2 linked regions of the Homo sapiens genome follow. The protein of the gene in region 1 interacts with the protein of each later gene in a pairwise test. Each region holds a gene or a part of one and is shown on either strand. Other genes may lie near its edges. The genes, in order: MAP3K13 and GLO1.

The links.
Region 2: the proteins of MAP3K13 (region 1) and GLO1 interact in a two-hybrid assay, tested with the Homo sapiens proteins (one large-scale study listed by BioGRID and IntAct).

What each region holds. Positions count from the first base shown.
Region 1 is NC_000003.12:185,443,042-185,446,871, forward strand, and holds part of MAP3K13 (mitogen-activated protein kinase kinase kinase 13), read left to right. Parts: intron 1-403; coding exon 404-595; intron 596-3,830. UniProt on the Homo sapiens protein: Activates the JUN N-terminal pathway through activation of the MAP kinase kinase MAP2K7. Acts synergistically with PRDX3 to regulate the activation of NF-kappa-B in the cytosol.
Region 2 is NC_000006.12:38,689,376-38,693,205, reverse strand, and holds part of GLO1 (lactoylglutathione lyase), read left to right. Parts: intron 1-3,830. UniProt on the Homo sapiens protein: Catalyzes the conversion of hemimercaptal, formed from methylglyoxal and glutathione, to S-lactoylglutathione. Involved in the regulation of TNF-induced transcriptional activity of NF-kappa-B. Required for normal osteoclastogenesis.

The sequences.
Region 1 (3,830 bases):
TCTTGGCCAGGCTGGTCTTGAACTCCTGACCCTGTGATCCACCCGCCTTGGCCTCCCAAATTATTCTTAATGATCTAAAACAACACAGTATCCAGCCTGCACAAACTTCAGAAAAGTGTGCTCTTTGTCCCGGAATGGAAGGGTCCCACAGAAAAGGCACCAGACACAGCACAGCATATAGATAGCCAGAGTGAACAAAACAAACAAAAATTGTCTATGTGCATCATAGAGAAACCTGTAGACTAGAGAAGTTTCCATGCTAATTTGAGAATCAGGAACTATTATCTATACACATTTTTAAAATAATTCGGGTATAGAATTGGTTTTTATTAAATATTCTTTAAATATACATATGTATACTTGTATGTGTGTATTGATGTACATGTTTATGTTTTCTTGGAAGGGGTGTTTGTACTCAGGCCCCATGTTATTGTATTATCATGGAATACTGTGCCCATGGACAACTCTACGAGGTCTTACGAGCTGGCAGGAAGATCACACCTCGATTGCTAGTAGACTGGTCCACAGGAATTGCAAGTGGAATGAATTATTTGCACCTCCATAAAATTATTCATCGTGATCTCAAATCACCTAAGTGAGTTCTGGGGCTAATGTTTCAGCTATTTTGGTTTGTTGTTTTGAAATACAGAATTTTTATCAACCTCAGTTGACGTTTTCAGACATCATACCTTTAGTTCAGTTTCAATCAGCACAGTGGGTAATTCTGTTTGCGCATCTCTTGGGTTATTGTTGACCTACCTGGTTACCTGTAGGGCAGATACGTCCAGGTATCTGAAACCACTTTTCCTTTTTGGTGCTTTTAAATCATACAACTGTGAAACAAAATTCATTATTATCTGAAGTATTCACCTTCTGTCATCTCAGATAGCTAATGCCAGACCTTCCCGCTAGAAGGCTTGATTTGTTGTTTTCCATGTGTTCAAAAAACTTTTTAAACTGAGTTTCAGAAATGTATACAACAGGATAAAATGGATAAATAAGAAACAGGCTAGCTGGGTGGAGTGGCTCACGCCTGTAATCCTAGAACTTTGGGAGGCCAAGGTGGGTGGATCACTTGAGATCAGGAGTTTGAGACCAGCCTGACCAACGTGGTGAAACCCTGTCTCTACTAAAAATACAAAAAATCAGCCAGGCATGGTAGCAGGTGCCTGTAGTCCCGGCTACTTGGGAGGCTGAGGCAGAAGAATTGCTTGAACCTAGGAGGAGGAGGTTGCAGTGAGCTGAAATCACACCACTGTACTCCAGCCTGGGTGACAGAGCAAGACTCTGTCTCAAAAAAAAAATAATAAAAATAAATAAATAATAAAAATAAAAAGAAGCAGAGGCAAAGGAAAAGTAAAAACATTAGAACTAAAAATTGTTCACAAATTATATGCCGTAAGATTCTGTAGACGTGGATTACAGATTTGGCTTTGAGCTTCTAGTGTCTAAGCAAAGGAGGAAATAAACAATTACAAGGTTCACAATGGCCATAGGAAAAATAAACACTGGCTATGTAAGAGAAGCAGGGCTATTTCTAGTAATCTCTGTTTTCAAAATGATTTCTTGGCTACCAATCACTTTAAGAGGAGTGTGTAGTTAGTTCCCCAAATTGAATGAAGAAAGAAATTGATAAAATGATTTATTTCAGTATAACTCCTATTTTTAAACATTATTTTTATTATTTATCATCACATTTTGGGTTAGATAAGCAAAGGATTAATCTCTTTTCAAAATATATTTGTAGCCTGGGCAATATAGTGAAAACCCATCTCTACAAAAAATTTAAAAATTAGCCAGGCATGGTAGTATGAGCCTATAGTTCAAGCTACTCAGGAGGCTGAGGTGGGAGAATCACTTAAGCCCAGAAGGTCAAGCCTACAGTAAGCCATGATCACACCACTGCACTCCAGCCTGGACCACAGAGCACAACCCTGTCTCAAAAAATAATAAAAATTTAAAAAAACTATATATTTATTGTATATACACACACACATATATATATTTGCATAGTGTTTTCATGGTTTATAATATCTTAGGGGGAATCCATTATCACATCTTTGATCCTGGCAAAAACTGTGTGGGATACGTAACAAGTATTGTTATTTTATGTAAGGAAAACTAGAGATTAGCCCAAAGTCATGGGGCTAGGACTCGAACCTAGAATTTCTGAACCAAAGGTTACTGCATTCTACCTCATTATGTGAAGGTAGGGGACTCACAATGAATCCTGCCTTTCCTCCATGGACGGTATAAATCAATCCTTCATTATAAACTTCAAAACAGCTCTTATTTATCACCATCATTCTCAGCAATATTTATTACAGTGCTTAGTTGACTGAACAACCTCCTCCTTGCTTTACTTGCAAGTAAACATGATTGTGTAGTGTTCATTTCTTCCGTTCACATTCTTACCCTGTTGCTTTTGCCATCCAGTGCATACATGTAAAGGACATGAACTACCTGAAGGCCTCTCTGAATGGTCTCCTTTTTAACCAACTTGTTCTCCTTATGAATTAATCTTAGAGGGAAGGAGTCAGGAAGCCGTAGAATAGAGTAGTAATTGGGTTACCCAGTAAGCCTTTCCCTCTATTAGCAATAACACTCCCAACCCCAGCAGCGTTGGCTTCTTTAGGTTTCAAGCTGACTTTGGGAAGACAGAGATCAATCTGACTTGCTGTAACAAGAGATCTCATTACTTACATTAAATCTGCAGGCTCTGTGACCACAACTTTGTCTCAGAGAAGATTTCAGAAAAATTCTAATGTTATATTTTTCTAGTCTCCTCTCAAGTCCATCCTCTCTTGTCACACCAACAGAGGCAGAGAGGAAGTTCCCATAAAAAGTTCCCTCTTTTAGGGGCTTACTGCCTACTCTCACTTTCCTGGTGTATGATATCAATTCTCCAATTCTCTCATATATCCCATAATATTTTAATCCTTATGCATTTTCACTAAGACTAACACTGTTAAATCAAAACTCCTAAGTTATATAAATTTTACATATTACGTGCAAAACCAGGGCATGGAGGATGGTATTCAAAAGCAATTGTAAGCTCTGAGCTATTTGGTAAATAGCCATTGGTGTTGGGGTTGTGAGCATGGTAAATGTGAAGGAATCCCTGGTTCAAATGGAGAAGCAAGGGGATAGAGTCAGATGCTTTCTGCCTTACAGCCTCCTCAATTCTGATACTATTTGAGGATGAAGCCTCTTATCATTTTTTTTTTTTTTTGAGATGGGGTCTCGCTCTGTCGCCCAGGCTGTAGTGCAGTGGCACAATCTCCACTCACTGCAAGCTCCGCCTCCCGGGTTCACGCCATTCTCCTGCCTCAGCCTCCCGAGTGGCTGGGACTACAAGCGCCCGCCACCACGCTCGTAAGCCTCTCATCATTAAACATAGGTCCCTAGATCATTAAAGCCTCTGAAACCCTAAGTCTTTAATTTTCTAAAGTTCTGAACAGGTTATTGCAAGTGAATTCGATCTAATGTGAAGCTGTCAATTTGGTACCGGATTGTATTCATCTTCAAGGCTGGCAGAGAGCACTTTGCCTCAGGCCACATTTTCAGATAACTACTATGACAAGTAAAACAGGACTGGTGTGGAATTTACTTAAGCTTGGATTTATTTCTGCTTTTCCTTATCAGCACTAGTGAAATCCCAGCATATATATTAGCCTTTTAATGTAATGAATCCCAAACATCATGGTCTCATTCATGATATTAGTTGGCTATCATTTAAACAGTGTTTTAAAAGAAGTACTCTTTTTAGTGGCCTGGCTAAAGCCAGCAAGGATGGAAACCAATATTTATTGATAACGGTGCCTTATGTA
Region 2 (3,830 bases), on another chromosome or scaffold:
CTTAAGGCAATTGAATTTATGATTAACAAACTTCCAAAGAAGATTTGTCCAGACCCAGGTGATTTCACTGGAGAATTCTGCCAAATGTAAAAGAAGAATTAACATCAATTATACACAACCCCTTCCAGAAAACTGAAGACGGGAGAACACTTCCCAATTCATTTGATAAAGCTAATATTACCCTGATACCAAAAACAAATGAAGACAGTACAAGAAAACTACAGACCAATATCTCCAATGAATATAAATGTAAAAACCCTTGACAAAATGTTAGTAAACAGAATTCAACAGTATATATAGAAAGAATTATACACCTTAACCAAGTGAGGTTTATATCTAGGATGCAAGCCTGGTTCAGTATACAAAAATCAGTCAGTATAATCCACCATATTAAGAGGGTAAAGAAGAATCACATGATCATATCAGTTGGTACAGAAAAGGCATTTGACAAAATTCAACACTCATTCATTATTTTTTTTAAGTTCAGAAAAAAATAGGAATGGGGGCATTTCTTTAACTTGATAAAGAGCTTCTCTTGAAAAGTTAGAGCTAATATTACACTCAGTGGTGATGCTTTCTCCCTAATTTTGGTAATAAGACAAGGATGTCTGCTGTTACCACTCTTATTTGACAAAGTGCTGAAAGTTCTAGACAGTGCAGTAAAGCAAGAAAAGGAAATAAGAGACATATAGGTTGGAAAGGAAGAAATCAAACTGTCCTTATTTGAAGATGACATGATTGTCTACATAGGGAATAATAAGTAATTTACAGAAAACTCCCAGAATTCATAAATGAGTTCAGCAAGGTTGCAGGGTACAAAATAAACATACAGAAATCAATCGCGTTTCTATATACTAGCAAAGAACACACAGGCACCAAAAATTAAAAAATACATTACCATTTACAATTGCCCAATAAAATGAAATACTTAGATATAAATCTAATAAACATTTACAGGACACATATGCTGAAAACAGCAATGGCGATGCAAAAAGTCATAGATCTAAATAAATGGAGAGATTTATTGTGTTCATGATTGGAAGACTCAGCACAGTAAGGATATCAATTCTCCCCAAATCAATATACATGTTTAACACACTCCTTATCAAACTTTTTTAGACAGAGACAGGGTTATTCTAGATTGAAAGGCAAAAAAACTAGAATAACAAACCATTTTGGAAAAGAATAAAGTGGGAAGAATTTTTCTACCTGATTTTAAGACTTACATAGCTACAGTAATCACTACTCTGTGGTATTGGCAGAGAGATAGAACATTGAAACAAAATAGAGAACCCCAAAATATACCCACACTAGTATGCCCAACAGCTTTTTGACAAAGATGAAAAAGCAGTTCACCAGAGGGAGGATAGCCTCAACAAATGGTGCTGAAGCAATTGGACATCCTTAGGTTAAAAATGAAGCTCTACTCAATTCTCATCCCTTATACCAAAAAAAAAAAAATCCATTTACTGGTGCTTAAAGGGGCCTTAATCCTTTGGTTCACATCCTTGCCTCACTTTTACAGTTTTGTAAGGATTGTATTGTAGGCAGGTAGGACATGCACTAGAAACATCCTTGATTGTACCTTTAAAGTTTTCTTGGCGGTTGCGGTGGCTCACACCTGTAATCCCAGCACTTTGGGAGGTCAAGGCGGGTGGACCACAAGTTCAGGAGTTTGAGATCAGCCTGGCCAATGTGGTGAAACCCTTTCTCTACTAAAAATATAAAAATTAGCTGGGCGTGGTGGCTGGTGCCTGTAGTCCCAGCTACTCAGGAGGCTGAGGCAGGAGAATCGCTTGAAGCTCGGGAGGCGGAGCTTGCAGTGAGCCAAGATTGCGCCACTGCACTCCAGCCTGGGTGACAGAGCGAGACTCCATCTTAAAAAAAAAAAAAGTTTTCTTACAGTAGTTTTCTTAATTAAATTTGGAGAATGACACTTCCCCTCCCCCCGAAAAAAACCTTATTATTTCTATTGTCCACCTTTTGATAAGGCACAGGAGCAAATCTTTGTCACCCAGTAGCCATCCCTGTAAAACCAAAGATAGTTTAGGCATAAAAGACACCTTATTTTTATTGTTCTAAATTTAAAGCATGATAAGGGAAAGACAAAATTAAGGACTATCAGGTGAGACAAGACATGAGCATAGCATAAGTCTTACTTTTTAAAACAGGAGATACATGTATTTTAAACGATATTTTAGAACCATACCAATAAAGCAATAATTTTTAGGAACTTAACTTTTTAAAACAGGAACTTTTTCTCAAGATCATGCAAGTGTTCACAAGAGGCACATGGAGTTAACAGACTATTTTGGTGATAAAAATAAAACTGTTATCTGAGCATAGAATAACTTGATCATTTTCTTAAAAATAAGCCCTTCTTGTTTTTATATCCATTTAACAATTTGTAGCAAAGGATTTATAAGCCTCTATTTTATCAATAAATTCACTAACGTTGAATATATCTTACTTTTTTTGCCACGTATAGACTTTTTAAAGTGAATTTTAATATTCTTTATGTGTATGTGTTTAGGCAGATACAGTACATAGTTCTCTTAATAATAAAGTTAAAGTCTGTAACATTAATTTTAAGATATAATTAATCTCAATAGCATATTAAGTGGTATTTGTTTTCATATGCATGTGTGTGTGTATATATATATAATGTTTTTAAAAGCTAATATACCATTTTATATATTCCCATGCCATTAGACTTAGTATACCATCTGTATATATCTCCATGCCATTTAATATACCTCGACGCAGCATTTTAAATGTTTTTCATAATATTCTTTTATGCCTGTGTCATACTATCTAACTATTCCTTTGTTAGAGGCAGTTAGTGGTTTAAAAGCAAGGACTTTGGAATCAGATTGCTTGGGCCAGAATTTTTTCTCTGCCACTTACTTTCTCAGCAGTAAAATGGGGATGATAATAATATGTATCTCATGGGCTTGTTGTGAAGATTACATGTATTAGTTTCTTTGAATCTCTTAGAACAGCATCTGGCACATAGTTATTGTGTAAGTGTTGTGATGGATGCCTTTGTACATAAATCTTTGTCAGAGTAATTATTTCCTTAGAATTTTAGAAAGAGAACATCTTGGTCAAAGAATATGAATTCTTAGGCCAAGGCAGGCGGATCACGAGGTCAAGAGATCGAGACCATCCTGGCCAACATGGTGAAACTCTGTCTCTACTAAAAATACAAAAATTAGCCGGGCTGGGTGGCGGGCGCCTGTAGTCCCAGCTACTCGGGAGGCTGAGGCAGGAGAATCGCTTGAACCCGGGAGGCGGGTTGCAGTGAGCCAAGATCTCACTGCTGCACTCTAGCCTGGAAACAGAGGGAGACTCTATCTCAAAAAAAAAGAAAAGAATATTAATTCGTGCACCACCACTACTGGCTGATTTTTTGTATTTTTAGTAGAGACGGGGTTTCACCATGTTGATCAGTCTGTTTCTCGAGCTCCTGACCTCGTGATCCGCCCGTCTCAGCCCCCCAAAGTGCTGGGATTACAGGCGTGAGCCACTGCACCTGGCCAAGAATATGAATTCTTGAGGACTCTTGATATTCCAGTTGTTTTCCAGAAAGATTGTAAGATAAGGATATGATAGACTATGGGATAGAATAGTTAAGGTTGTCTAACTTTGGCAAGTACTTGGCATGGCATCTACAACAAAAAATACATGCTGTGCCTAAGATATATGGATTTGAGTATAGCCTGTATAGTGTGAACAGAAGTAATGATAAAGTCGTTGGTAAAGTACCAATACTAATGTTGGTACTAGAAAGATGTTGAAGAAACAAAACATAAACAGGGTCACTACAA